4 linked regions of the Homo sapiens genome follow. The protein of the gene in region 2 interacts with the protein of the main gene of each other region in a biochemical or structural test. Each region holds a gene or a part of one and is shown on either strand. Other genes may lie near its edges.

The links.
Region 1: of the proteins of ACVRL1 (region 2) and SMAD1, one has a biochemical effect on the other in vitro, tested with the Homo sapiens proteins (2 studies listed by BioGRID).
Region 3: the proteins of ACVRL1 (region 2) and NR1H2 form a complex in vitro, tested with the Homo sapiens proteins (one study listed by BioGRID).
Region 4: the proteins of ACVRL1 (region 2) and EIF4E form a complex in vitro, tested with the Homo sapiens proteins (one study listed by BioGRID).

What each region holds. Positions count from the first base shown.
Region 1 is NC_000004.12:145,484,844-145,491,867, forward strand, and holds part of SMAD1 (mothers against decapentaplegic homolog 1), read left to right. Parts: intron 1-5,433; exon of another isoform or gene 5,434-7,024. UniProt on the Homo sapiens protein: Transcriptional modulator that plays a role in various cellular processes, including embryonic development, cell differentiation, and tissue homeostasis.
Region 2 is NC_000012.12:51,902,847-51,910,525, forward strand, and holds the start of ACVRL1 (activin receptor type-1-like isoform 1 precursor), read left to right. Parts: upstream 1-4,657; 5' UTR 4,658-4,849; intron 4,850-7,679. UniProt on the Homo sapiens protein: Type I receptor for TGF-beta family ligands BMP9/GDF2 and BMP10 and important regulator of normal blood vessel development. On ligand binding, forms a receptor complex consisting of two type II and two type I transmembrane serine/threonine kinases.
Region 3 is NC_000019.10:50,372,363-50,379,457, reverse strand, and holds the start of NR1H2 (oxysterols receptor LXR-beta), read right to left. Parts: upstream 3,002-7,095; 5' UTR 2,882-3,001; intron 2,740-2,881; 5' UTR 2,632-2,739; intron 1,872-2,631; 5' UTR 1,853-1,871; coding exon 1,810-1,852; intron 1,726-1,809; coding exon 1,588-1,725; intron 1,310-1,587; coding exon 1,019-1,309; intron 937-1,018; coding exon 662-936; intron 457-661; coding exon 277-456; intron 1-276. UniProt on the Homo sapiens protein: Nuclear receptor that exhibits a ligand-dependent transcriptional activation activity. Binds preferentially to double-stranded oligonucleotide direct repeats having the consensus half-site sequence 5'-AGGTCA-3' and 4-nt spacing (DR-4).
Region 4 is NC_000004.12:98,919,123-98,926,146, forward strand, and holds part of EIF4E (eukaryotic translation initiation factor 4E), read right to left. Parts: intron 1-7,024. UniProt on the Homo sapiens protein: Acts in the cytoplasm to initiate and regulate protein synthesis and is required in the nucleus for export of a subset of mRNAs from the nucleus to the cytoplasm which promotes processes such as RNA capping, processing and splicing.

The sequences.
Region 1 (7,024 bases), on a different chromosome or scaffold from region 2:
CCCCTGAATTTTCACTGTATTGATATCTACTGACATGTTATTTCTTTAACTAGTCAAACTTACCAGGCCTATACCAGAAACAAAGATATTTGAATTGAACATATAAACAGTTCAGGAAAAGAAGATCCTTATTTTGCTTAAGTTTCTGACAATCCTTATTTAGCTTATGGATTATCTAGGGCTCTGCTATCCTAGCCATAGTCACACGTAGCTTTTTTTGAAATTTTATTATTCTATTTTTTTGAGACAGGGTCTCTCTGTGTTACCCAGGCTGGAGTGCAGTGGCACGATCATGGCTCACTGCAGCCTCGACCTCCCAGGCCCAGGCAGTCCTCCCACTTCAGCCTCCCAAGTTGCTGGGACTACAGGCACTGCCACCATGTCTGCCTGACTAATTTGTTTTTGTATTTCTTGTAGAGACAGGGTTTCGTCATGTTGCCCAGGCTGGTCTTGAACTCCTGGGCTCAAGCTGTTCTCCCGCCTCGGCCTCCCAAAGTGTTGGGGTTACAGGTGTGAGCCACTGCACTCGGCTACTTATAGCTATTTAAGTTTAAATTAAAATTAAATAAAAATTCGTTTTCTCAGCAGTAGCCGCATTTCAAGTGCTTAGTAGCTGCTTGTGGTTAGTGGCTGCCATACTGGACAGCGTGTATATAGAATAGTTCCATCATCACAGGAGGTTCTGCTAGCCATTGCTGCCCCAGGACCTTTACCTCTTCTCACTTGTTAACTCTACTAATGATTTGTGGAGTCAAAGATGGAAAGACATATATAAACTAATTTTATCACTAACTAGCTGTTCTTTTTAAAATAAAACACAATTTGGAAGGGACAGTTGAAGCTGCTGGATAAAAGGAGTTTGACTTTTCTGTAGATCTTATTTATTATTAGTGTCATCGATTCTAATTTGGTTTAGAGCCTTAGAGAGAAGAAATAATTGTAGCTAACCCTTTTTTCTGAATTTTTACTGTATGTATGCCAGGCATTGTTTATAATACCCATATCTCATTTAAGCCTCAAAACTTCCATAAGTACTATTGTTGTCACATTTTACAGGTAAAGAAACTGAGGACAGAATGATTCAGTATCTTGCTTCAGGAGGTACAGTGAATGATTATGATTTCTAATCTTACCTGGGATATGATCGAGGCAGTCCAACTCTAGAAACTCCATCTTAACTATGTTTTTTGGTCTTTCGTTCAGAAGACCCAAATCATCATTGTTCTGCTGTGCTTTACTATGCCAGTATAGACATGACTTGGCTTGTGTATTTTGTAGGTCTTTAAATAAATTTACCTTCTATTGTGCCTTTCTGGGCTATCTTCTGTCGTTCTTTTGTAAGTGTTTAAGAAAGGAAAAATAATGCTCATCTAAGCAGCACATAATTTGAAGAATAAATCTGGCATGAAAATAATGCATTTCAAAGCCAAATTAGTTTTATCTCTGCTTTTCTGCATAATTCTTGTCACTTTCCTCTTGCATTTTCTTACATAATCACAAACTGATATTAAGTTAGGAGGAAAGTTGTAGTAATTCAGTTTGTCTGTCTTACCAAAATTAGTCTATCTTCCCTGAGCTGTTAAACACTGTAAGAATAGTAATTGCAAATTCATTGGGGATTTTTAAAAAAACATTCAACATCTATTTTTGTAAATGTTTTACAAGGTCAGGGCTGTTTAAGAATCGATGAAACTATGGATCTTGTATCTTCTTATTCCCACCTTCCTATCCCAAAATGCTTATATGTCATGGTGAGTTAATGTGTACACTTAACTATCCAAATCTCATGGTCTTTCGGGTGAAATATGTCCATGGGACTGCCAAGTGCTTTCATAAACATTAAGATTTGTAATTTCCTTTACAGAGAATAGAGATACTTAGTATTAAAAGTTGCTTTAAAGATTTTCTAATCTGGTTGGTTCATATCAAGGTGAACAGTCTGAAGTCCAGAGAAGGTAACTGACATCCAAAGTTACCTGTCTAGTGATTGGAAAAGGGAAAGCCAAGATCTGGACTCCTCTTGGCATTAAGTGCCCTTTTGTTTTCAGGTTTTTTTTCTCCCTACCACGCTCACGATATTTCTGAGGCTTTGGTGTAAGCATATCCAGTGTAATTTAGGGAAGGGAGGAAAGAATTTTTTGGCCTGTTAGCAACTTTTTATACCTAACATTGTTTGAGCTAAGTAGGAATCAAATCTGACAACCAGAGAGAAATGCTTATTTTCTACATATTAAAATTGATTCTTTTTCATTCTGGAGATGGAAAAGAAAAGCCCTATATCTAATTTAATCAATGAGACCTTATTAGAAAATGGGAGATCCAAGATTGCACAAAGTTCAAATTAAAGCAGGCAACTCTGACATCTAGCAAAATATACGAATCTCCTCTTGACTCTCGAAAACAAATCACATTCCTAACCAAAAGCTAAAGTTTGGGGTATTTAGGGAGCTAGGGAGTCCTAGGGAGAGAATTGGACAGGTCTGAGGAGAAAAAGGATAATTTAAATATAAAAAAGTGGAAAAAATCGGTTTTAAGTCATAGCATGTCTTTGAGGTTGATGAAATGTTCTGCTACTTCTATATGTGGTTTTACTCTTTGGTACCAAGATTTTAGGACATACTTTGATAACAAATAGGGGCATGTCCTCTTTGCCCCAATCTGAAACCTCTTGACCCTTTATTTTCCTTTCCTGCTGTTATCTGGTAGTACAAATATTCAGTCTAATCTGTTGATCTGGCATCTGATTTGCAGCAAAAATACCTGAAGTATTTTCATCACTCTGCTGTAGCCACCTTTAAAAAGAAAAGGAAAGAGAAGAAAAAGGCAGAGCCAAATAGTATTAATGTAATTGCTTAAAATCTAAATTAAAATACTCATCTTGCTCTGCGTTATTAAGATGGTGTCAGTTTTAGAGGTGCAGGGCTAGTCCTATATGCAAAACAGTAATGTCTGTAGCTATTGCGGGCTGACTTGCAGAAATGAGCGGCTTCTCTAGAACATTCATTTGCATAAAGGAAACTATCTTTCAGAAAAGAAAAGCCAAAAGTTTCATAAGCAGTTTCACTCCAGTGACTACATCAGAGTTTTAGTAAGGTACTGGGAACTACAGTATTTGAACAGTTCAGCATCTTTATAATTTTTGTTATAAGCTAAAATCTGAACTTTAGAGAAGACTCTCTCTTGAAAATAAAGCATTAAATTCTCTAAGGTGTGAGGAAGTCCTTACCTGGTGATTTTCCCAAATCTCTTTTATGTTCTTAGTGTTTGAAAAAGGAACTTTTTTTTTTTTAATAAGAACCTAGGTTTGCAGTATAGATTGGTTTCTTAACAAATATTTTTTTTGAGACAATAAGCCTGGATCTGAAGAAAGAACATACAATTGTTAATTATGCATGTATATGCTTTTGAGTTCAGGATGTAAATGAATATTCACTAGGTCCTGTTTGGGAAGAGGAGGAGAGAGGGGTCTCTCTGTTGATTCAGAATATATTTTTATACATAAGTTTTAATGCTTTATTTGTAGTTTCCCCTTAATTGTAGGGCTGCTGTACTGTGGATATTTTGCTCTACAATCTGAGATTGTTAGGGTATAGTTACTCCAACTATTCATGTATTATCCTCTCCCTGTCTTTTTGTGTGTGTGTGTGTGTGTGTGTGTGTGGTTTCTTTGTGGTGTGCTTATGCAAAGTAGAAGTATTCCAGACCTTTATAGCTTTTTTTTCTTTTAGTTTCAAACACTTCAAGAAAAAAGGTGGGGGGGAGACTCTCTCAACGGTTATAATTAGGCATTAATTAAGCCATTATTCAGTTAACTAAATGCAAGATCTTTTGTTTGTTTAGATGGAAAAGAAACGTATCTTTTTAATGAAGGAGGGATATTAAATGGGCCCTTATTTGATCATTTTGCTGCAGTATTGTAATAAGTATATGCTTCATTTATTCCCTGAATATTTATTAGTTCTGAGGCTTAATAATTAGAGTATACACAAACATGAAAAATTAAATGCAGCAACATTATAAGAGCCGTTACAAGGTAGTATAGGAGTAAATTGTACAGACAACTCACATCAGGACCACTGTGGCCTGGAAGGACATGTGAGTTTGCATAGGCAGAAGGAAGAGGGACATTATAGACAGAGTAATGGCATGAAAAACTGGGAGATAAGCATGAGTGTTGAGTATCTGTAGAGCAGCACTGTCCAATAGAATTTCTGCAGTGATGGAAATGTTCCACATCTGTGCTAATACAGTAGCTGTAGCCACACATGGAACAGCATTTTTTAAAAAATTAATTTATGTTTCAGTAGCCACATGTGGTTATCATATCAAATAGCACAGATCCAGAGGCAGTGAGCAGCCCTGCCTGACCTCAGTGGGTGTTCCTCATGGAGCCTAGTATGGTGGTGTGGAGGAGATGCTCAGAAAGGTTGACTTCCAGTGAGAATTTTAGGGCCTTAGAGTGCCAGAATAAGGAAACATTGGGAAGTCACTGAAAGTGTTTGAACATGCAGTTTGCACTGGAGGGATAGAGCCCAGTGCCAGGAGATCAGTAAGAAAGCTATTGAGTTATGTGTGAGATGATAAATCTCTGGTAAAGGTAGACATGGAAAGAGAAGGATTTAAAAATAAATAAATAAATAAAATAAAACAAAAAACCATGAAGGCTTGGTGATTATGTGGCTATAAAGTAATGAGAAAGAGATGTCGGAGATATATCCTTAAGTTTCTAAACTTGGTGGCTGGAAAACTAATAAAGATGTTACTTAAGAATAGGGAAGAGCTGGTTGTAGAAGAAATAAAAATTGTGCAAATGATAAATTAGACTTGATGTGTTAAATTTAAGGTGCGATATCTAAGTCAAAGTATGCTACAGGCAGGTTGGAGATAAGGTTTGGGAGGACTTGAAAGCTTTACGTTAGACTCTCTGCAGTCATCTGCTGGGTATTCTGAGACAACCACAAAGAGAGAAAGAACTGGTGGATTGAATCTTCCATTGGAGCCCACGGTTAGGAATTAATAGAAGGAAGAGGCTAATTTGAAGTAGACTGCCTGAGAGGCTGTTTGACATAGACCAAAGAAGAAACTGGAAGAAAGGCATGGGGTCAGAGGAGTGGGAAAACCAGGAAGCCACTGGAAGAGAGATTCTAGAAGTAGGTTTGGAGGGGAAAATGTACAGTTCAGGGTGAAGGAGAAGAAGTCAGATAATCATGTGAATGCAATTTCAGAGAAGGCTGAATACATTAAGAAGTGAGAGAGTCTTATATTGCCTTAAGTGACTTGAATTTTAAGATAGATGAGACCTCTTCATATTTGAAGGTTGAGGGGAAGAAGTCAGTGGACAGAGAGCAATTGGAGGTGATGGAGTTAGCCATCTGGAGCACAAGTGACAAATGTTGACCGTGGTAAGGAGGGAGAGTTGTCTGAGAAAGAAACAGAATGGGGTCCGAGTGAGAAGAAAGCATGTGGCAGAGCTCCTGTGCACTTTTGCTGATTTTCCTGTATTGTTGGAGGTAAGTCCTTTCACTGGGATGGTGAGGAGGAAGATCAGCACATGGTAAGGGAAGAAGAACCACCGTAGGTAGTGTGCCAGGCAATCTATAGAGAAGTCAAATTCTAAACAATTGGGGGGAAACCTGGGGTGAAGTGTGGTGAGGCTGCTGTATAGGAGACTAGGTTAATTGTTACTTTTTGGTATCACTTTGTGGCCTGGTAGGCTTAGGGATAGCAAATGGGTTCAGAGATAAGACTCTAGAGTCAGATTGCCTGGGTGTAAGACCAAGCCCCAACACTTACTTGTTTTATAAGAAGCCTGATGAACTAAATGAATTGAGAAGCAGTAAGCAATGAGAATCTTGGTAATGAAGTAGTGAAATATCAAGTTTGGGAATTTGTAGATAGAGCATTTCCCTAACAATTCTAGATAAAGGTTTCTAAGAAAAGTATAGAAATTGAACTAACAGAAGAATCCCTGTAATGATTTTAAAGGTTAAGTTAATTAGAACTTAAAAAAATAAGTATTGTATTCTGAATTTTTCTGTGGCTTTTATTACAGCATTCATTACGGTTAAAAACATTTCTTTTTCATTAAACCAATATGTGCTTAATGCAGAAAGATTCTGCAGTGGATTCTTGTCATAGTGTTAGAAGGAAAGGGGAGTTTGATTTATGCCACTGGGGGGAGGGTTATTAATAGCCAGCCACAGAGCCCTTCAAAATGTGGCTCCAAAGGCAGAAACAATAAAGGAAACTTTTTATAGATTTGATAGCATTTATTATGTGACCAAACATACTCAAAAACAAAACCTGAAAGACAGATAAAGAGATTTGCAACAAGATATTGTTCTTTACAAGAAAGACTTATATCAATAGGAAGCACCACCCCAATAGAAAAATTGGTAGTGGACGTGAACAAGCATTTCACAAACAAATGAAATGCCAACTGCTGACGGGAAGATTCTGCGCCTGTAATCCCAGCTACTCTGGAGGCTGAGGCAAAAGGATCACTTAAACCCAGCAGTTCAAGGCTGCAGTGAGCTATGATTGTGTCACTGCACTCCAGTCTGGGCAACAGAGTGAGACTGTCTCAAGAAAAAGGAAAAAAGAAGTACAAACTACTAATGAACACACAATGTTTTGGTTATGTCCTGGATCAGACTTGATTGAAATGGGGATGATGTCTTCCTTTTTCCTGTATTTTGTTATTCTTTGTATACTAGGAAGTATCAGTCTGGGAAGACTGGGCTTTTCTCATTTAAGGAAAGGAAGCCCGAATTTCCCAGCCTCCTAGGAGAATCTGGAGTGTCAAGGAGGTACAAGATATATACAAAGTAGAGTTATAAGAGGCAGGCACCCTGCTTCCCTCCATAACATGGTTTTCGTCCAGGAGTTTCCTTATTGCAGTGTGAGGGGCTATCAGTTATACACAGTTTCTCAGTCACCTGGCGTAGATGATGAACCTTGAAGACACCAGTGCTTCCTAGAGCATATTGAAATAGGCCCCTTTCTCTCCTACCTGAATTGCAGT
Region 2 (7,679 bases):
CTATGTTTAAAACTTTTAATTTCATTTTTGTACTTAATTTTTTTTTTTTATTAAACACACACATTAGCCTAGGCTTACACAGGGTCAGGATCATCATTATCACTGTCTTCCACCTCCACATCCTGTCCCACTGGTAGGTCTTCAGGGGCAGTAATGTGTGGAACTGCTGTCTCCTGTAATAACAATGCCTTCTGGAATACTTCCTGAAGGACTTGCTTGAGGCTGCTTTAAAGTTAACTTTTTTAAAAAATAGAAGATGCACACTCTAAAATATAATAATAAAAAGTATAGGATATTAAATACATAAACCAGTAGCATTGTCATTTATCATCAAGTATTGTTTATTGAACATAGCTGTACATGCTGTATACGTTTCTATGGCTAGCAGCGCAGTGGGTTTGTTTATACCAGCATCAGCACAAACACATGAGTAATGCGATGCGTTACTACGACGTCAGTAGGCAACAGGAATTTTTTGGCTCCATTTATAATCTTATGCGACCATCATTGTATGTGTGGAATATTTTTGACTGAAACTTCATTATGCAGCAAATTACTATATTAGCAAATAAAATTGAGCTATATATAATGAAGAAGTACACATTATAACCAAGTGGGTTTATTCCAGGGATGTAAGGCCTGGTTCACTATTAGAAAATCAGTCAACATAGGCTGGGCACGGTGGCTCACGCCTCTAATCCCAGCACTTTGGGAGGCCGAGGCGGGTGGATCACCTGAGGTCGGGAGTTCAAGACCAGACTGACCAACATGGAGAAACCCCTTCTCTACTAAAAATACAAAATTAGCCAGGTGTGGTGACAGGCACCTGTAATCCTAGCTACTAGGGAGGCTGAGGCAGGAGAATCGCTTGAACCCAGGAGGCAGATATTGCAGTGAGCCGAGATCACGCCATTGTACTCCAGCCTGGGCAACAAGAGCAAAACTCTGTTTCAAAAAAAAAAAAAAAGAAAAAGAAAGAAGAGAAAATCAGTCAACATAATCTACCGTATTAACAGACTAACAAAGAGAAATTACACAATTCGTATCAGTGGATGCAGAAAAGGCATTTGACAAAATTCAATAGCCATCCATGATAAGAATACACACACACACACAAAAGAGGAATGGGGGAACTTTCTCAATCTGATATAGAGTGGCTACTACAAGAAACTTACGGCTAACATTATGATTAATAGATTGAGTGTGTTCTCCTAAGAGAAACAAGGCAAGGATGGCTGTTCTGTTTTGACCACTCTTATTCAACATAATGCTAGAAGTTTTAGCTAGTGCAGTCAGGTAAGAAAAGGAAATAAAAGATATGCATATTGGAAGGTAAGAAATAATACTGTCTCTATTTGCAGATGCAGATGACTGTCGATGTAGAAAATCCCAAAGAATCCATGAGGGGTAGAAAACCCAAATACCTCACCCCCTTGAATAAGTGAGTTCAGCAAGGTCACAGTATACAAGATCAATATGTAAAAATCGATTATATTTCTATATAATTTAATGAACAAATGGACACAAAAATTAAAAATAGCATATCCTGTTTATAATTGCTTTTAAAAAGTATAAGTGTAACAAAACACATAAAGGAGTTAAATGCTGAAAACTACAAGAACACTGATAAATAAAAGAGACCTAAATAAATGGAAAAAAAATATATCATTAAGAATTTTAAGATGGCAATGACAGCGCATTAAACCAAGCATGGGGCCCTGTGCATCTGCACAGGTCACACTCCCATGAAGCCAGCCCCGCACTAGTATCAAGAGTGATGTTTGAGTCTGGGTGGGGTGGCTTATGCCTGTAATCTCAGCACTTTGGGAGGCTGAGTGGGTGGATCAGCTGAGGTCAGGAGTTCGAGACCAGCCTGTACAACATGGTGAAACCCCGTCTCTACTAAAAATACAAACATTAGCCAGGCGTGGAGGCACGCATCTGTAATCCCAGCTACTTGGGAGACTGAGACAGGAGAATCACTTGAACCTGGGAGGCAGACCTGAGATCACGCAACTGCACTCCAGCCTGGGCGACACTGTGAGACTCCATCTCAAAAAAAAAAGAATGATGCTTGAACTTAATACTCATAGCTGGTCCTGAAAGGTGAAGGTGTCCATTGCCCTGCCTTCCTGACAGACTCCATGTCACCCACCTTCCACAGATGAGAATCTGCTTGAGGTTTCACCCCACACAGAATCTCCAGGCCTCTGCTTCCTGCAGTGTTGGGAAATCCTTCTGAGTATCTAAATCTAAATCTTTGTCCTTTGGGCCTGTTTCCTCTTGTTCTGTCCTCACTGAATATGGGGAACAGCTGGTCCCTCTGAGTAATTAATTCTTGTAGACTTGGACACAGTCTGTAATTCCTTTTCCCTTTTCTCATTGGGATGACTCTCCAGGGCTTTCTCCAACTCTGGATCTCCAACTCTGACACCTCCCCCAGGTTCTCTGTGTGCTTTGGAAGGCATGGGGTTCACAAGAGCCCCAAAGAGCACCAGTCAGGGGCCAGAGGGCTCAGTGCTCTGGGGAGATGGGGAAGATTCCAGCACTGATGAACAGACTCCAGCCCCCCCTGGGTCCTCTCTTCCAGCTCCCAAAATGTACTCTATTTTTATCTGTTTCACGAACGCTGGTCCAGATAGTCTTCCATCCCCCACTGACTGTTAGAAGTGACTCTCAGCTTTTGTCCATCTCGAAGTTTCTGTGCTCAGTGTGCCTCTCAGACTAAAGGCTTCCTTTGGGAAGCCCCGACTCTCGCTTCTCAGGACAGAGATCCAGGGGTTGGGGGAGGAAAAGGTTGACCAGAAGCCATAGCGGAGCAGGGAGAGAGAGTGTGAAAGACAGACCCGCGGCCAGGCTCCCAGTTCTCCAGCTCGTAGAGGGCCCAAGTGGCCGCTATAATCTGAAAGAGCAGATATCGTAATCCCATAGTACTTCCTATTGGCTGCAGGACACAGTTCTGTCCTGACACTGAAATTTGGGTGTGTCAGGGTTCTGGGAATTCACAACGCTCACAACTTGTGAAGCAGCTGTGGGGTGGGGGATGGGGAGGGTTTCAGCAGAGGAAGTGAGGTCAGTCAATAATTGATGCCTGTCTGAGCTTTTAGCCATTATCTCCCCCAGCCTCTATTCCTGTCAAAAGGTGGGGCGGGGCAGGAGGAGGGGTCCCTGGCTCATCTTGTAGAATCCCCATATTAGAGTAAGACACCTTAGAGGTCTACTCCTGCTTCTAATACCCACGTCTTTCCAAGTGTCTCTGAGGCCACCCCCTCCCCAGCCTTTTCATTTATTCATTTAATTAACGAACGCCTTCATTGAGGGCCTCCTCTGAGTCAGGCTCAGCCAGCCAGCATCTTTGCTATGAGCTGAGATAAGCATCATTTCCGTCTATTCTCACAACCACCCTATGAGGCTGGCACGGTTTACTATGCCTATTTAGCAGATGGGGGACTGAAGCATGGAGAGGTGTCACTAGCCTACGGTAACACAACCAGCCTGCATTCCTAGTAGGTAGTTTGACTTCAGAGTCTCTGTGGATAACCAGGAGGCTAGGACTAAGACCAGAGTCCTGCAGGTACTTAGATGGTTGGAGCAAAGCAGGGCAGTGAGGTCAGTGCTCCCAGCCTGTGCAGGAGCATCAGGAAGAGTCTGTGTCCCCCTCCCCTGCCGGTATGAAGCCATTCTGCTTCCCTCCCCAGCTGCCTTGTGTCAGCAGAGTTCCAGGGAGGCTCCATTCCCCACCTCTATCTAAAGCTCCATTTGCTGGGGTGGGGGCCCTGCCTGGAAGGGGAAGGTCCAAGGCTGCTCCCAGCGTGTCCCTCCATCCTGACTGTCCCTGGCGGGGCGGGGGTGTCTTTGTCACCCAGCTGCACAACGGCCAGGAAGGGCTCAAACCATCCTCAGGGCTAACCCAAGGCCGTCCTCTGGGCCTGTATACCCCTGTGCTGAGTGCGGATCGGGAGAGGCTGCTGAAGACAGGAGGGGACAAATGGGGGACGAAGGGGCCCGAGGGAGGGGACTGAAGGATTTGGGCCAAGTCGGGAGTTCCCGAGGGCGGAGTCAAAACGCATCTGGATTTTGCTAGCCCCAAACTCTGCCCTCATTGCTGCAAGCCTCCTAGACCGAGGACCCCCGGGCTGAGGGTGGGGTAAGGATAGGTAGTGTCCCTCCCCGTCCCACCCCCGCCTGTCCCTTCCTCGGTGGCCCCTTCCCGGCGCCCCGATTCCAGGCGGCCCCTCCGCTGCTGCCAGCCGATCCCCCTCTACCCCCACCCACTACTCCGGCCGCCAGACGTTGCCTACAGTCTCGGCTCTGTCTCCCACGGCTGTGGGTCCGGACCCCACGGGACCCCTATGGGACCCCCACAGGACCCCCACGGCCTGAGTCCAAGGCCCGCCCCCTCGGGGAGGCGGATGTGGGAGGCCCGGCCCGGGTGCGGGCCAGCGACCCGGGAGCTGCGGGCGGCTGGGAGGGGAGGCCGCCCTGAGGGGCTGGGAGCGGCGCGGGGGTGGGTCCCGGTCCTGCAGCCCCAGCGAGGGGCGAGCGGCGGCCAGTCGGCGAGCTGGGCAATAAGGAAACGGTTTATTAGGAGGGAGTGGTGGAGCTGGGCCAGGCAGGAAGACGCTGGAATAAGAAACATTTTTGCTCCAGCCCCCATCCCAGTCCCGGGAGGCTGCCGCGCCAGCTGCGCCGAGCGAGCCCCTCCCCGGCTCCAGCCCGGTCCGGGGCCGCGCCCGGACCCCAGCCCGCCGTCCAGCGCTGGCGGTGCAACTGCGGCCGCGCGGTGGAGGGGAGGTGGCCCCGGTCCGCCGAAGGCTAGCGCCCCGCCACCCGCAGAGCGGGCCCAGAGGTGAGTCGAGGTCCGCGGACGGGACCGGGTGGCGGGCGGCCTGACCCCCGCTTCAGTGGGCCCTTCCTTCGGGCGGACCCCAGAGTCACCGCAGAGTGGTCGCGGGAGGCTCAGTCCCAGCTCATTAGAAAGGCAAGCTGCTCCTGGCTGACCACGCACAGCTCCCATGACCCTACCTGAGACTTGGAGGGGAATGGACGAGACTGGACTGGAAATCAGAAACTTGGTTCTAGTCGGGTGACCTGGGGTCAGTGACTTCACTTCTCTGTTCTCCTACCCTCTTCATAAAATGGGCAGTGGGATTCCTGTCTTGCTCTACTCACATAGAAGGGATCACACGTCCTCCAGGCCGCTGGGTGGACCTGGAGTGAATGCCTACTTCCACAGCTGTTGAGCCTCCCAGCAGAGCTCACCTTTCCCAGATCAGTCCTTCCAGCTGTTGCTTGAGGAATCTGACACTATCACTCCAACCTAGGAGTCTCACCCTAGGCGCGCATGGTCAGTCACCTCCTTGCCACGACCTTCCTTCAGGATCCAGGCCAAAGGGGATCCCAGTCTCCCCCCAGGCTGGGACCCCAGATTTTTCCATGGAGGCCAGTGCTGTGAAACCCATGGCTGGGCTGGCTGCCCCAGCTCCTCTTTCCTTCTCCAAGGACAGGGGCATAATGGACAGTTGCTCTCACTCTCTCTATGTATGGCCAGCTTCTGGCTGAGTCAGGGTCTGTCCTAATACCTGTCCTCTCACCTGTCCCCCCATTTCATTGGTTTGTTAGAAATAGCTACCATTGATTGAGTACTAACTATGTAGACACTTAGATATATATATTTTTTCTCATGTAATCCTGGCCGCAACCTAGTGGAAGAGGGGTTACTATCCCCTTCCTACAGAAAAGGAAACAGACATGAATATGGGACTTGTCCAAAACTCCTTGGATGGTGGGGTGAATGGCATGGTTGGGGTCTTGATAACATTTCAGTGCTTACTGTGTACTACTTATACTCTGCTAAATAATTGTACTACATTTTACCTATGAGATAACACTATTATTATTCCCACTTTACATATGATGGGAAGCCTAAGCCTCAGAAAGTTTAAGTAACGTCTCAAATTTCATACCTCTAAGTGGCAAAGGCAGGATTTGAACCCAGGTCTCCATGCTCCAGAGCCCACACCCTAACCTCTGTGCTACACTGTGCTGCCTCCATGGTCTGCCTGAGACCTGAAAATCCAGGCATCACCTGGATGTTCCACTGCATCACCCCGCTGTGAAGGGCTAATAAATCACATGGATGAATCGTAAGGGCAACCCAATATGAACAGCTGGGTCTGCTCCTCTGCTGTTGGGGTAAGGCCTACTGAAGTGCAGAGTGAGTCCAGAAGGTTGTGCTTGATATGGCGCTTCTCCAGCCCTGTGAAGATCACTGCTGTGCTGAGCCACTGCCGTTGATGGGAGTAGGTTTTATCAATCCTTCAGGTGTGCTAGGGAGAAAAACATTGATAAGCACCTTTCGGGCATACCACTACTCTGGCTCTCCCCACCTGAGGCTCAGACTTTGACTAAGCCTATGGCAAACAGATGATTTCTGGGCAGCAACACCACCTTTGTTGCCTGGGTCAACATAGTGAGACCCTATCTCTACTAAAAATAAAACTGGGCATGGTGCTGCACCCCTGTAGTCCCTTGGGACTTGGGAGGCTGAGGTGGGAGGATCACTTGAGCCCAGGAGTTCAAGGCTACAGTGAGCTATGATTGCACCACTGCACTCCAGCCTGGGCGACTGAGCAAGACCCTGTCTCAAAAAAAATTAAAAACAAACAAAAACGCTGTCTTCATTTAAACAAATCTGAGTAGGGCACCCGTTAATAACAACAGTAGTGGGCAATTTGTACACGTCCACCGAGACCCATGTCTTTTTCTTCCTTTGAGGGACTCATCTAACCCCAAACAACTGGAGGAATAACAATGACCAAGGAATGATTTATTATCAGCAATTTAAGTTTATTAAGACACGCTCAGTGACTATGGACAAGAAACTGAACATCTCTGAGCCTCACTTTCCCCCGTTGGACTGTTGTGATGATTAAATCAGATAAACCATTCAAGTTCAGTACTTAGCACATAATTAGTACTCAGAGAAGGTTAACTGTTATTATTAAGTATTTCATAGTGTTTAGCTAACGTTTGAAATTAGTTTAACGTCTGTAATTTCTGGCCAACAATAGTGATGCTTCTGTCAGCAGGAGATCTTTCACAAAGTTTTGCTTAGAAGTGAAAGGATCCTGCCAGGCCCCAGGAGTCTGTCTGTGCTACAGTCAGATTTCAGGGTAAATCGTACAGAGTCAGCTCTGAGTTTGGACTGGTCGGGACTCAGCATCCTCCTGTACTTGATCTCACACTGGGTCCAGTTAAAAATTGGACAGTCCCAATTTTACTCCATCACATTCCCAGGATTAGACCATAGATGGGTTCTGCAGATGCAGACAGCCTCGCTCCACAGTGTCACCACGTCCCAGCTTTGGTGTTTACCCTTGGCTGTCCCTTCTGTAGTAGATGGGGAGTATCCTGGGTGGGAGTGAGTGTCCCCTCCCTCTGCATCCCACTCCCACTCACCCAGCAGGGCCCTGTACAGCAAAATGAAAGCAGAGGAACCAGACTTAGCGTTGTGCCCACACAAACTGATCAGAACTCCCTGGGGAACTTTTAAAAAATGCATGTTTCTTGCTGATTCCAGGACTGAATCAGAGTCTGGAGTGAGGGTGAAACCAGTGAATATGCTTTTCTCAGTGAGCACTTCAGGTGATTCTGATGCGTGATAAAGTAGAAGGAGG
Region 3 (7,095 bases), on a different chromosome or scaffold from region 2:
ACGTGCTCAATACTTATATGTTATCCCTACTTTGATTCAAATGCTAACTCCTCTGAAAAGCCTTTTTGGCAACTTTTCTCTGCAATAGCGCCTCTAGCCTGATCCTCAATTTTCTCAGCCTCAGACCCTTTTTCCTTTCTCTCCTTGGCTCATAGAAGACTCTATTCGCCGTGGAATGTCATCCTACAACGGCAAGCACTGGTCTTCCTTAACTCTGCTCCCAGCATCTGTCCTGGAGCTATCTCTGGGGTTCCTTGTGGGCAGATGGACCATTACCTCGATAGTGGATGCCTTCAGGAGGGCGATCTGGTCCTCCCGGCCCAGCTGCAGGAAACCAGGCACTTGCTTAGCGAAGTCCACGATCTCCTGGACTGAGATGATGGCCAGCTCCGTGAAGTGGGCAAAGCGTTGCTGGCGGGCATCTCGGGACTGGGGGTCTGCGCCCAGGGGCCAGGGCTGGGACACAGGAGACCAGGGTCACTCCCAGGTCTTTGTGAGCCTAAGTCTGGGTGGCCACCTTGAGGCCAAGCCTGCACCCTGGGGGATCCTCTTCCCAAAGCCCCTGCCCTCTGGAGCCTCATTCTCCCACACCCTGGGTGATGGCCCAGCTGGCTCTACCCCATTGGGACCGTCACACTCAAGGTTGTGGAGGGGGCAGTACCGTGACTTTGGGCTGGTCGGAGAAGGAGCGTTTGTTGCACTGCAGTTGGGCCGCCACCAACTGCTGGATCATTAGTTCTTGAGCCGCTGTTAGCTGGACACCCTCGCCTTCCCCGGAGCCCTGGCTGCCTGCCTCAGATCCACCAGGGGAAGCCCCAGGCCCAGAGGCTGAGCTGCTGCTGCCCTGCGGCCCCACAGGTGACTGCGACTGTGACTGTGACTCCTGCTGCTGTTTCCGAATCTTCTTCTTCCGGATCTGTTCTTCAGAAAGGACGCCTGTAGGGGGATGCAGGCCTCAGCAGAACCCCAGGGCTAGGCGGGGGGCCAGGCCGGCACCGCCCCCTCCCGCTGCACTCACACTGCTCCCTCATCCCTGCCTCCTTGCACTTGCGCAGCCGGCACTGCTGGCACTTGCGCCGCATGAAAGCGTCCATCTGGCAGGTTCCGCCACCCCGGCAGGCATAGCGCCTGGCCCCACCACGGACCACACTGCGCCGGAAGAAGCCCTTGCAGCCTTCGCAGCTGAGCACGTTGTAGTGGAAGCCGGAGGCCTTGTCCCCACAGACACGGCAAAGCTCGTGGCCCAGCATCTTCGGGGCTGGGCCCTTCTTTCGCTTGCGCTCTGGTTCCTCTTCGGGATCTGGGATGACTGGGGTGGGTAGGTAGAGGCCATGAGAAAGCCACAAGGAGAAACAGGAACCAGAGAGATGGGCCCACAGGAGATCCCCAGGCAAAGAGCCAGAGGATGGAGGGAGAGAGGAGTTGCTGCTCACATTCAGGGAAATTGCAATTTAGAAAGATGTATATGTTAAGGAGAAAGCAAGAACAAAAAGCAAAGATCAGGGCCTCCCATTCCCATTTCTATTTCTTTCTCCCTTCCTAAACCCCTCCCCAAGCCCCCACATCAACTCCAGGGCCCTGTCTCACCCCAGTCTGTGCTGCAGGCTGAGCTGGCCTCATCAGTGCCTGGGACATCAGGGTCCGGACCCCCGGGCCACGGCTCCGGACCCTCCTCCTTTACAGTGGGTGAAGAAGAAGGGGCGCCAGGCTGAGGGGGGCCATTTCCTGGAAGAGGGTGGAATCCGGGAGAGGTACAGTGAGCTTCTGCTCGTGTGTGATAAGGGCTGGGTGGGGAAGAGAGTCACTCACCAGGCAGGGGGGTATCCAGGGAACTCGTGGTAGGAGAGGACATGGTGGGGTCACGGAGCAGCCTGTAGAATACAGGGGATTGAGAGCCTTGTGGGGCTAAGAAGGGTTAGGTTAGGTCAGTTACAGGTCCTGACAGGGCTTTCCCTTTTTTTTCCATCTCTCCAAAGACCCTACTCTCAGCCACAACCCTGGTTCCTGCCAGCCTACAAACCCTCCCCATCCTTCTAACAAGACCTGCCCCCTTCTGTTCCACGCCAGCCTTCAGCTTGGTCTTAAGCCCCGCCCCTGCTGTAGGCCCCGCCCCCTCAGGTCCAATCCACCTGCTTTTTCTAGGTAGGGCCCATTCTCCTTTAATCATGCTCTGCCTTCACGGCCTCCATGCCATGTAGTTTCCCCCCACCTCCTCTTCTTAAGACTCTACCTCACTTCTGCCCCAAGCATCCCTATTTCTCATTCTGACCCCACCTCCTCCTACTATGCTCCGCCCTCAACCTTCCAGGTTCAGCCCCTAAAGCCCCCATCATGGGCCTCCCAACACCTTGCCCCGCCCCATATGCATCCCTCCCTCCAAGCCTCACCCCCACAACCTCGCTCCAGGTCCCCATCCCCTCCCATCATGCCCCGCCCCCGCCCCGCCTCCTCCCTTCCTACTGCACCCCCACAACCTCGCTCCAGGCCCCGCCACATCTCCTCCCATCATGCCCCGCCCCCAGCCCCGCCTCCTCCCTTCATGCCCCGCCCCCGCACCGCGCTGCAGGTCCCGCCCCATCACCTCCCATCATGCCCCGCCCCGCCTCCTCCATTCATGCTCCGCCCTCGCACCTCTCTCCAGGTCCCGCCCCTCTCCAAGCAACAGCGGGGGGCGGGGCTCATGGCTGCGCGCGGGGGTCTCGTGGACGGCCTCTCGCGGAGTGAACTACTCCTGTTGCCCTGGAAACAGCCGCGGGAGGCGCGAATTACCGAGGGGAGGAAATGGAAGGAGAGAAGGGGGCAGAGCGGAGTACGCGGGGAGCGCCGAGAAGCCCCGGGTTCGGGGCTCCTCCTGCGTCTCCCCACTCTCGGGTGCACCTACCTGGGTTCCCTTGCTCTGCTTTTCTTCGTCCTCCTCTTTAGCCCCTGACACACCGCCGCTACTCAAATACCCTCAAAAGTAACTTCGCCACTTCTTCCGGCAACCCCGCCCTTGCGTCACGTCCGGAAGAGGGGCGGAGCGTGAAACTTGACGAACTTCCGGTCCGCTTAGGACCAGCCGAAGCTGCTGCCCCGCACGGAAGTTGGAAACTCACCGGAAGTTTACCGGGTAGATCTACTGGGACTTGGCAGAAGAGTTCCGAACCCATTTCCTCGCTTCTTGGGAGCCAAACCTCCAGCCCCGCGCTTTGTGGCTTTAGCTCATTCATGCGCTTCTCTGAGCCTGCGGCCAAACCCTAGCTATAGCTGCTTGTCGCACATGACTGATTTAAGGCACGTTTGCACTTTTTTGGTCGTTACAAGTTTTCTGATTTTGGAGTCGTGCTGCTTGTTAGTTTTATTTATTTTTATTTATTTATTTGGAGAGGTCTCACTCTGTCACCCCAGACTGGAGTGCAGTGGTGTGATCTCAGCTCACTCCAGCCTCTGCGTCCTGGGTTCAAGAGATTCTCTTGCCTCACCCTCCCAAGTAACTGGGATTACAGGCATGTGCCACCACGCCCGGCTCATTTTTTTGTATTTTTAGTAGAGACAGGGTTTCGCCATGTTGGCGAGGCTGGTCTCGAACTCCTGACTTCAAATGATCCGCCTGCCTCGGCCTCCCAAAGTGCTGGGATTACAGGCGTGAGCTGCGGCACCGGGCTTATTTTTACTTTTTTTTTTTTGAGATGGAGTCTCACTCTGTTGCCCAGGCTGGAGTGCAGTGCCGCGATCTCAGCTAACTGCAACTTCCGCCTCCTGGGTTCAAGCGATTCTCCTGCCTCAGCCTCCCTTGTAGCTGGGATTACAGGTGCCCACCACCACGGCCGGCTAATTTTTCTATTTTTAGTAGAGATGGGGTTTCACCATGTTTGCCAGGCTGGTATCGAACTCCTGACCTCAGGCAATCCACCTACCTCGGCCTTCCAGAGTGTTGGGATTACAGGCGTGAGCCGCTGTGCCTGGCCAGATTTGAGATGTCAGAATTTTCTCATTGTTAAAATTTTGCAAAAATGGTTTCAATAACTTGGTGATTGGAAGAATTAAAAAAGCTCAGTCTCGGACCGGGCGCGGTGGCTCACGCCTGTAATCCCAGCACTTTGGGAGGCCGAGGTGGGCAGATCACCTGAGGTCGGGAGTTTGAGATCAGCCTGACCAACATGGAGAAACTCCGTCTCTACTAAAAATACAAAATTAGCCAGGCATGGTGGCGGGCGCCTGTAATCCCAGCTACTCGGGAGAGGCTGAGGCAGGAGAATCGCTTGAACCCAGGAGGCGGAGGTTGCGGTGAGCCGAGGTTGCGGTGAGCCGAGATTGCGCCATTGCACTCCAGTCTGGGTAACAAGAGCGAAACTCCGTCTCAAAAATAAAATGCAATAAAAATAAAGGAATAAAAGAATGGCTACTCCAGGTAGAGCAGCGGCTTGGGCTGTTCACTGTGATTATACTTATAGTTATTTCTTGATTATATACTAAACAACGGGTGGATTATTCATGAGTTTTCCAGGAAAAGGGTAGGCAATTCTCAGAATTGAGGGTTCCTCCCCCGTTTAGACCATATAGGGGAACTTCCTGACGTTGCCATGGCATTTGTAAGCTGTCATCGTGCTGGTGGGTGTGACTTTTAGCATGCTAATGCGTTATAATTAGTGTATAATGAGCCATGAGGACGGCTAGAGGTCACTCTCATCGCCATCTTGGTTTTGCTGGGATCTGGCTGACTTCTTTACTGCATATGCTGTTTTATCAGCAAGCTCTTTGTGACCCGTATCTTGTGCCAACCTCCTATCCTATCTCATCCTGTGACTAAGAATGCCTTAACCTCCTGGGAACGCAGCCCAGTAGGTCTCAGCCTTATTTTACCAAGCTCCTATTCAAGACAGAATCGCTGTGGTTGGAATGCCTCTGACATATGTGTATGCCTTTATAAAAAAGAAATGGGACTATGTGATCCATGCTCTTCTGTAACTTATTATGTCTACTCAGGCCCATCGTTTGAGATTGTGGAATTTTCCACCTAGGGATGTTAGAAGCGAAACAAGTGATTAACATGAGCGTTGGAAATGGCAGAACCTGGTGTCTCTGTCACTTCCTTCCTGTGTAACACTGAGCCCAGTTCCTTAACCTCCCCGTGCCTCAGTTTCCTTGCCTGTAAATTGCAAACAGGAGTGAGAAAGCCGGGCATGGTGGCTCATGCCTGTAATCCCAGCACTTTGGGAGGCCAAGGCAGGTGGATCACCTGAGATCAGGAGTTCGAGACTAGCCTGACCAACTTGCTGAAACCTGGTCTCTACTAAAAATATAAAATTAGCCGGGCATGGTGGCGGGCACCTGTAATCCCAGCTACTCAGGAGGCTGAGGCAGGAGAATTGAACCCGGGAGACAGAGGTTGTGGTGAGCCAAGATCTTGCCATTGCATTCCACCCTGGGCAGCAGGAGCAAAACTGCATCTCAAAAATAAAAAAATAAAGGCAGGGCACGGTGGCTCACGCCTGTAATCCCAGCACTTTGGGAGGCCAAGGCAGGTGGATCACAAGGTCAGGAGTTCAAGACCAGCCTGACCAACACCATGAAACCCCATCTCTACTAAAAAAAATACAAAAAAAATAGCCAGGCGTGGTGGTACGTGCCTGTAATCCCAGCTACTTGGGAGGCTGAGACAGAAGAATCACTTGAACCCAGGAGGCGGAGGTTGCAGTGAGCCGAGAACGCGCCACTGCACTCCAGCCTGGCAACAGAGTAAGACTCCGTCTCAAAATAAATAAATAAATAAACAAATAAATAAAAATAAAAAAATTAAAAAGAGTGAGACAGGAGGCTAGGCACAGTGGTTCATGCCAGTAATCCCAGCATTTTGGAAGGCTGAGGCAGGCAGATCACGATGTCAGGAGATGGAGACCATCCTGGCCAACATGGTGAAACCCCATCTCAACTAAAAATACAAAAATTAGCTGGGCGTGGTGGCACGTGCCTGTAATCCCAACTACTTGGGAGGCTGAGGCAGGAGAATCTCTTGAACCAAGGAGTCAGAGGTTGCAGTGAGCCGAGATCGCGCCACTGCACTCCAGCCTACCGACAGACTGAAACTCTATCTCAAAAAAAAAAAAAAAAAAAAAAAGCGAGACAGGAATAACACAGGGTAGTCACAGGAGAATAGAAAATTCCAGGCAGCAGTTTCACATGACTAGCAAAAGGAAACTGTTGAAATAGTTGCAGCAGGTGGGGGCTGATAAGACTCTTGAAAACCCTAGGTGTGGACCAACCTGGCTAAGACACATTGGACCCAACAAGGCCCTACATATGACCTAGGTCTCACCTAGGACCTCGTTATATGCTCATTAACATAAACACACACCCACCAGCACCAGGACGGTTACAGGAACACCCATATTTGGTGTAAAAGTGGGTGGCACCACAGTTCTCAAAAATCTCCTTTTTCTAGGAATCTTCATGAATATTCCACTCCTTGATTAAAGAAATCCATAGTACATACCTGTAGTCCCAGCTACTCAGGAGACTGAGGCAGGAGAATCGCTGGAACCCGTGAGGCGGAGGTTGCAGTGAGCCAAGATCGTGCCACTGCACTCCAGCCTGGGGACAGAGCAAGACTGTCTCAAAACAAAAAGAGAGAAACCCATTAAGGTAGCAGCCCCAAACCCCCCCTGCAGGAGACTCTCTCTGGAGTCCACCTGTACTCCTCTTTGTTGAGTGTGTACTTTTCACTTTGCAATACATCTTTGTACTTTCAGTATTTTCCCACTTGTCCTCAAGTTCCTTCCCGAGATGGTGTCAAGAGCCTGGACATTGGCTGGGGTGGAGGTCCCACACCAGCATATGGGGACTTCCCCTAGCCCACCGGGATCAAGAGTATGACCTTGTTGCCTTACTCTTATGACTAAATGAGGTAAAAGCATAAACAGGGTGGGTTTCAAATGAGGTGCCTGATATGGTGGAACTGTATTTATATTTATTTATTTATTTATTTATTTTTTTAAGATAAGATCTCACTCTGTCGCCCAGGCTGGAGTGCAGTGGTGCCATCTTGGCTTATTGCAGCCCTGACCTCCTGGGCTCAGGTGATCCTCCCACCTCAGCCTCCAGAGTATGTGGGACCGC
Region 4 (7,024 bases), on a different chromosome or scaffold from region 2:
GTGGTGAAATGCTGTCTCTACTAAAAACACAAAAATTAGTTGGCAGTGGTGGCGCACACCTGTAGTCCCAGCTACTCAGGAGGCTGAGGCAGGAGTCACCTGAACCCGGGAGGTGGATGTTGCAGTGACCCGAGATCGTGCCACTGCACTCCAGCCTGACAACAGAGTGAGACACCATCTCAAAACAAAAACAGAAACAAAAAGACTAGCAAAAAAAAAAAAAACAAAAAAAAACATTAACCCACAGAAAAATTCTAATTCTATACAAGAGTAAATAACTATCTTTCAAAGTTTAAAATACAGAGCGACAAGCTTTTCTAGGATAGAATCATGTATCTAACCAAACTGGACATATCCAGTTATACCTTATAAAGTTGAACTAAATACAATATGTATACATACATTTGCACACACCAGAATTTCTAGATTCTTTTTCTTTTTTTTTTTTTTTTTTGAGATGGAGTCTTGCTCTATCACCCAGGCTGGCGTGCAGTGGTGCAGTCTTGGCTCACTGCAACCTCCGCCTCCCAGGTTCAAGTGATTCTCCTGTCTCAGCCTCCCGAGTAGCTGGGACTACAGGCACGTGCCACCACACCCAGCTAATTTTTGTATTTTTAGTAGAGATGGGGTTTCACCATGTTGGCCAGGCTGGTCTCCAACTCCTGACCTCAAGTGCTCCACCTGCCACAGCCTCCCCAAGTGCTGGGATTACAGGCGTGAGCCACCATGCCCGGCCAGAATTTCTAGCTTCTGAGGCCATACTGCACAATTAGGTAGCCATTACCTACATGTGGTTAATTATTAATATTAAATAAAGTTTAAAATTTATTTCCTTGGTTGCACAAGCCACAATATCCAAATGCTCAATTACCATGTACAGCCAGTGGCTACTGTATTGGACAGTAAAAAATACCCTTTCCATTATCTCAGAAAGTTCTCCTGGACAGACTTTTTCTAGTAGAATCCTCAAAAAATTGTAATTGGGCAATTTGGAAAGGGGAATGAGGTGGTTGGGGAAGATAGGCAGGAGATAGGTTTTCCACATTAGACAGAACTTAGCCTGTGCCAGATAATGTCCTTAATATGACTCATGCTAATTCAATCCTTGTTGTACTTCAGTATAAATTGGTTTCCTTTGTAAACCTATGCATTTTATGTAATACATGTTAAAACATTCTTTTTTCTTTTTTTTTTTTGAGACGGAGTTTCACTCTTGTTGCCCAGGCTGGATGCAATGGCACCATCTCGGCTCACTGCAACCTCCACCTCCCAGGTTCAAGCAATTCTCTTGCCTCAGCCTTAGCTGGGACTACAGGCACCCATGAACACGCTCGGCTAATTTTTGTATTTTTAGTAAAGATAAGGTTTCACCATTTTGGCCAGGCTGGTCTCGAACTCCTGATCTCAGGTGATTCGCCCATCTCAGCCTCCCAAAGTGCTGGGATTACAAGCATGAACCACTGTGCCTGGCCTGCATTTTAAAACACTCTAAGATAGGGGCTATAGGCTTTACCAAATTGCTATTTTGGACCATGAGTATGTAACTAAGTCAAAGAAAAAAAACAAAAAATAAAGAAAAGCTAAATACCATGATGTATAAACCAACATCCAAAACAGATTTTACAATCCACAACATGGTAACAAAGTATACAAGTTCAAATGAAAAAAATTTAACCCTCCTAATCCCACCATCCATAAACCATCTGGCATATTCTTTCAGTTAGAATTTTACACTTATTTGTGTACCTACGCATCAGTATCAACCCTAACATACAAGTTTTACTGAAGGATGGACTTTAGTTTTGGTTGAATTTGTTCCTCTTTTTACACAAGATAGTAATAAAGCTTGACACTCAGGTTTGAGTTCTCTCTCACTTATGTTAATTATGAGTTCTATAAAAATAACTTGCCTTGCTAAAAATTAAAAAAAAATTTTATATTCAAGTGCTATTCCTTTTGCGGCACCAAAACTTTGTATGTAACACTTAAGGAACTATGTGACCGTGGTAGAAAGTTAAAAATCACTTGAAATATGAATTCCTCACCTATAAAGTATTCATTTATTCATCAGAAAAAGAACTATAAGAAAAAATATACATTTCACATATCAATTAAAATATCAAACTTTCTTGCCTTAGTTAATACTTCTGACCAGATTTTGTGCCAACATAGGCTTACTGCCCCATAAGAAGTTTCACGGCAATACTAATATGTTGACATATATATGTAGACATATATATCAAAATTAGTTACAATATTTTTTTCTGTGCTCTGCTCATTACAATGACAGTAATGGAGTGCAATGTCATCATCTCGGCTCACTGCAACCTCCACCTCCCAGGTTGAAGCAATTCTCTTGCTTCAGTCTCCCAAGTAGCTAGGACTACAGGCACCCGTGACCACGCTTGGCTAATTTTTGTATTTTTAGTAGAGATTACAATGACAGTAATGAGCAGAGCACAGAAAAAAATATTACAACTAATTTCTGTATAGCATTTTGTAGTAACAAGCTTAAAATACACCAAGAAACACGTATGTGTACATTTTAGCTTAAACTTTTTCAAAACAACTGTTTTACCCTTTGCCAGACTTATCACCAAAATTACTAAAAGTACTAAGGTAGTTAAGTCTAGAATAAATCCAAAATTCACAAACTTTTAAAAATGTACTAAAACTTTTTTCACTAGCAAAATATTTTAACTGGGAAATCATACGAACTAGCAAATGCCAGAAATCAAATTAGAAAGGGGGAGAAGGTTAAGTGTCCATCCACTTTCTTTAGAAATCCACAAAGTTCTCAATTAGTTACTAAAACACGATTGGTGTAATTGCTTGGTTTAGTCCTCAAGATTATATATTTTTGTTATCTAACATTGTAATATAACAGGGCCTAAAAATAAATGCCCACACGTTTTATTTTATAGCTGTAGCAAAACACATAGTAAGCTTATCAAAACACATCTCCCCTTCTGAAGTCACCCAAGCAAAGCACATTACATGCCTACTTGAAAGAGTGCAACGGTTAAGAATATACACTCTGCACTTTGGCTGCTTTAATTTAAACTCCACCCCACCACTTAATAGCTGTGTGATTTTGGAGCAAGTTAGTCACACAATGTTACTTCATCTGTACTGTTAAGAATTAAATGAGTTAGCCTGGCGCGGTGGCTCACGCCTGTAATCCCAGCACTTTGGGAGGCTGAGGTGGGCGGATCACGAGGTCAGGAGTTCGAGACCAGCCTGGCCAATATGGTGAAACCCCATCTCTACTATAAATACAAAAATTAGCCGGGCGTGGTGGCACGTGCCTGTAGTCCCAGCTACTCAGGAGGCTGAAGCAGGAGAATCACTTGAACCCAGGAGGCGGAGGTTGCAGTGAGCCGAGATCGCGCCACTGTACTCTAGCTGGGACAACAGTGAGACGCTGTCTCAAAAAAAAAAAAAAAAGAAATAAATGAGTTAATATATGTAAAGCATTCAGTGTGGTACTTAACATAGAATAAGTGCTATGTGTAGCAATTACAAATAACGATCTTTCTACATTAAAAATAGCTGTTACAAACAAGGTATGTTTATAAGGTTTTTTTAGTTAGTTGCTTACAACTATAAATCCATATCCTTAATTCCATATCCCTATAAATCCAATGCTGGTTAGATTTGTAATGATTCCACAAAAATTTACTGAATATAGTGTGACTAAACTTCATTTTCCTGTTTTTTCTTTTTTCTTTTTTTTTTTTTTTGAGAAGGAGTTTCAGTCTTGTTGCCCAGGCTGGAGTGCGATGGCAGACATAGGCTCACCGCAACCTCCACCTCCCAGGTTCAAACGATTCTTCTGCCTCAGCCTCCCAAGAAGCTGGGGTTACAGGCATGTGCCACCATACCCAGCTAATTTTGTAATTTTGTTAAGTAGAGACAGGGTTTCTCCATGCTGGTCAGGCTGGTCTCGAACTCCCGACCTCAGGTGATCCGCCCACCTCAGCCTCCCAAAGTGTCGGGATTACAGGCGTGAGCCACCACGCCCGGCCCATTTTCCTACTGTTTCTATGGAATAATGTATCAAAAGTTCCAACTGGGGAAACAAAAAAAAAAAAACCCCTTATATTTCTGACCACATTCTCAGGTTCCAGAAGTGCCCAGAAATGACTATTAGTATTTTAGACACACACACACACACGCAAAATCATTTTCTTTTTCTTTTTTTTTTTGGTGAGATAGGGTCTCTTTCTGTCACCCAGGCTGGAATGCAGTGGTGTGATCACAGCTCACTGCAGCTCTGACCTCCCAGGCTCAGGGGATCCTCCCATTTCAGCCTCCTGAGGCTAGGACACAGGTGTGCACCACCATATTCAGCTAATTTTTTAATTTTTTGGAGAGACAGGGTCTCGCCATGTTGGCCAGGCTGGTCTCAAACTCCGGGCTCAAGTGATCCTCCTGCCTTTGTCTCCCAAAGCCTCGGATTACATGTGTGGGCCACCAAGCCCAGCCCCTTTCTTTTTCTGGAGACATGATTAGGGACTTTTGAAGGAACACTAGTGATTTTTATGGTAGGGATAGGAGTGGGAAGAACATCTTAGGATTGTGAATCACAGGCTTTGCATTTCTTGCTAATGGCTAAGGATTGATAATTAAAAAGCAGCAATGTGAATTTCCAAGAAAAGAGGGAAAATAGTATGTAAATGCATGGATATACATGAGTATAAAACATTCATGGAATGTCAACTTTAGTCCCTTACAGTTGACAAACTGTCACCTTTGAATACTGCATTTAAAAATTGAAATCACCGTAATATATCTTATTCCGACTTTCAGCTGACTTAGAAATTTCAGTCTTCAAGATCACTCAGATATTAAGATGAGACTATAACCCATGCTCATTTCCACTTCTCAAAAAAGTCTCTATGACTAAGATGGTGCAACTCACCGGTACTAATAGATTAAGGAAACTTCTTTTGTTTATTTTTTTTTTTTTTGAGACGGAGTCTCGCTCTGTCACCCAGGTTGGAGTGCAGTGGCACAATCTCAGCTCACTACAACCTCCGCCTCCCAGGTTCAAGAGCTTCTCCTGCCTCAGCCTCCTGAGTACCTTGGGATTACAAGCACGCATCACCACGCCCAGCTAAGTTTTGTATTTTTAGTAGAGGTGGGGTTTCACCATGTTGATCAGGCTGGTCTCAAACTACTGACCTGGTGATCTACCCACCTCGGCCTCCCAAAGTGCTGGGATTACAGGCATGAGCCACCGCACCCGGCCCATATTCTTAACTTTATGTAAATTAAACAATATTTTACTTAAATGTTTTTTGCCTACAGTTTTCTGTCCAAACTAGAGTAAGCTTACATAATTCATTTTGCATATTATCCCTCTGCAACTTCTGTGTATAAACTGTGTGTCTACATTGAATTTCTCTAAGTCTAATAATCATGCTCATTAACTCAGATTATAAAATGAAGTGTGAAATTTGTTTCTGTTTTTTTTTTTATTCTTTTTGATGGAGTCTTGCTCTGTCGCCCAGGCTGAAGTACAGTGGTACCATCTCGGTTCACTGCAACCTCCACCTCCAGGTTCAAGCGATTCTCCTGCCTTGGCCTCCCCAGTAGCTGGGATTACAGGCGCCTGCCACCAGGCCTGGCTAATTTTTGTATTTTTAGTAGAGACAGGGTTTCACCATTTTGGCCAGGCTGGTCTCGAACACCTGACCTCAAGTGATCCCCACCCGCCTCGGCCTCCCAAAGTGCTGAGATTACAGGCGTGAGCCACCGCACTCAGCAAGTATATTTTTTTCTTTTAATTGAAGAAATCTGGAATATGAACCCCAGAGCCAAATTTACGTGGATTATCGAGGAACTCTGATATAGTGGGTTCTTTCATTAAGCAAAAAGTCCACTAATTTGCATAGTCTGGTTGGCATTCAATTGTTCATTAATATGAATTATATAGTACAACAAATATTTGTCAATATGTATATAAACCTTATTTACTCTTATTAATAAGCTGTGTAGTACAGAGCATGTTTCCAAAGTATAAAAAAGGAAGCATTAAATTAGCTGATTGTCCAAGTTGATTCACTTATGAAATTAGCGTGGTTTCAAAAAATTCAAGAGCTACAATGTAAAAACAAGTAAAATTATACACTTTCAGTTAAGCTAAAGAAATCAAAATTAATCTCTTACCTCAAAAGGAACTACAAGTCAAAAAAAAATTTTTTTAATTCTAATAATGAACGATGTAGAATGAAGATAAAGCTACAAAGAAACACGACCTACTGGAGGTAAGATGGCCTTGCCATTTTCACAGACTAATATTAAACCTAATTTTGACCCAGCCACAATTCAAATGCCGATAGAATAACATCAGAGTACCGTTTGCCCTAACGTTCAAATTTTTGCCAAATTATCCGTTAAGAGGTAAAATGTTTCCCTTAATTTTCCCTTTCAAGCTTCTCAACAAATTTAATATTTGTGGGCCACATCTTCATGTAACTCAACTCATACAAAGAGAAAACCACACAATAATATCAAACTGAAAATGATATTTTATGTAATGTCCATAGACAAAAATCATCCAGATACCTATGCATGATGGGATAAGCAGGAAAAGCCCATGGCTCTTTTTAAGTGTTTATGATTATGCACAGCAGAAAACCATTATGGAAGCTCACAAACTAGCTGAAGTAAGAAAAAACATGATTTTTGCAGCCTTCAGCAGGGGTATCTCAAGTACAATCCAATTCTAATCAGTTGCTTCAAAAAAAAATCCAGGCGAGGCTCGGTGGCTCACGCCTGTAACCCAACATATTGAGAGGCCAAGGTGGGAGGACCACTTGAGTCCAGGAGTTTGAGACCAGCCTGGGTAACCATCGCGAGATTCCATCTCTACAAAAAGTTTAAAAATTATCCGGGCGTGGTGGCCTGCTCCTGTAGTGCTTGCTACACCAGAGGCTGAGATGGAAGCATCTCTTGAGCCCAGGAGTTTGAGGCTGCAGTGAGCTATGATCGCGCCACTGCACTCCAGCCCCAGCAA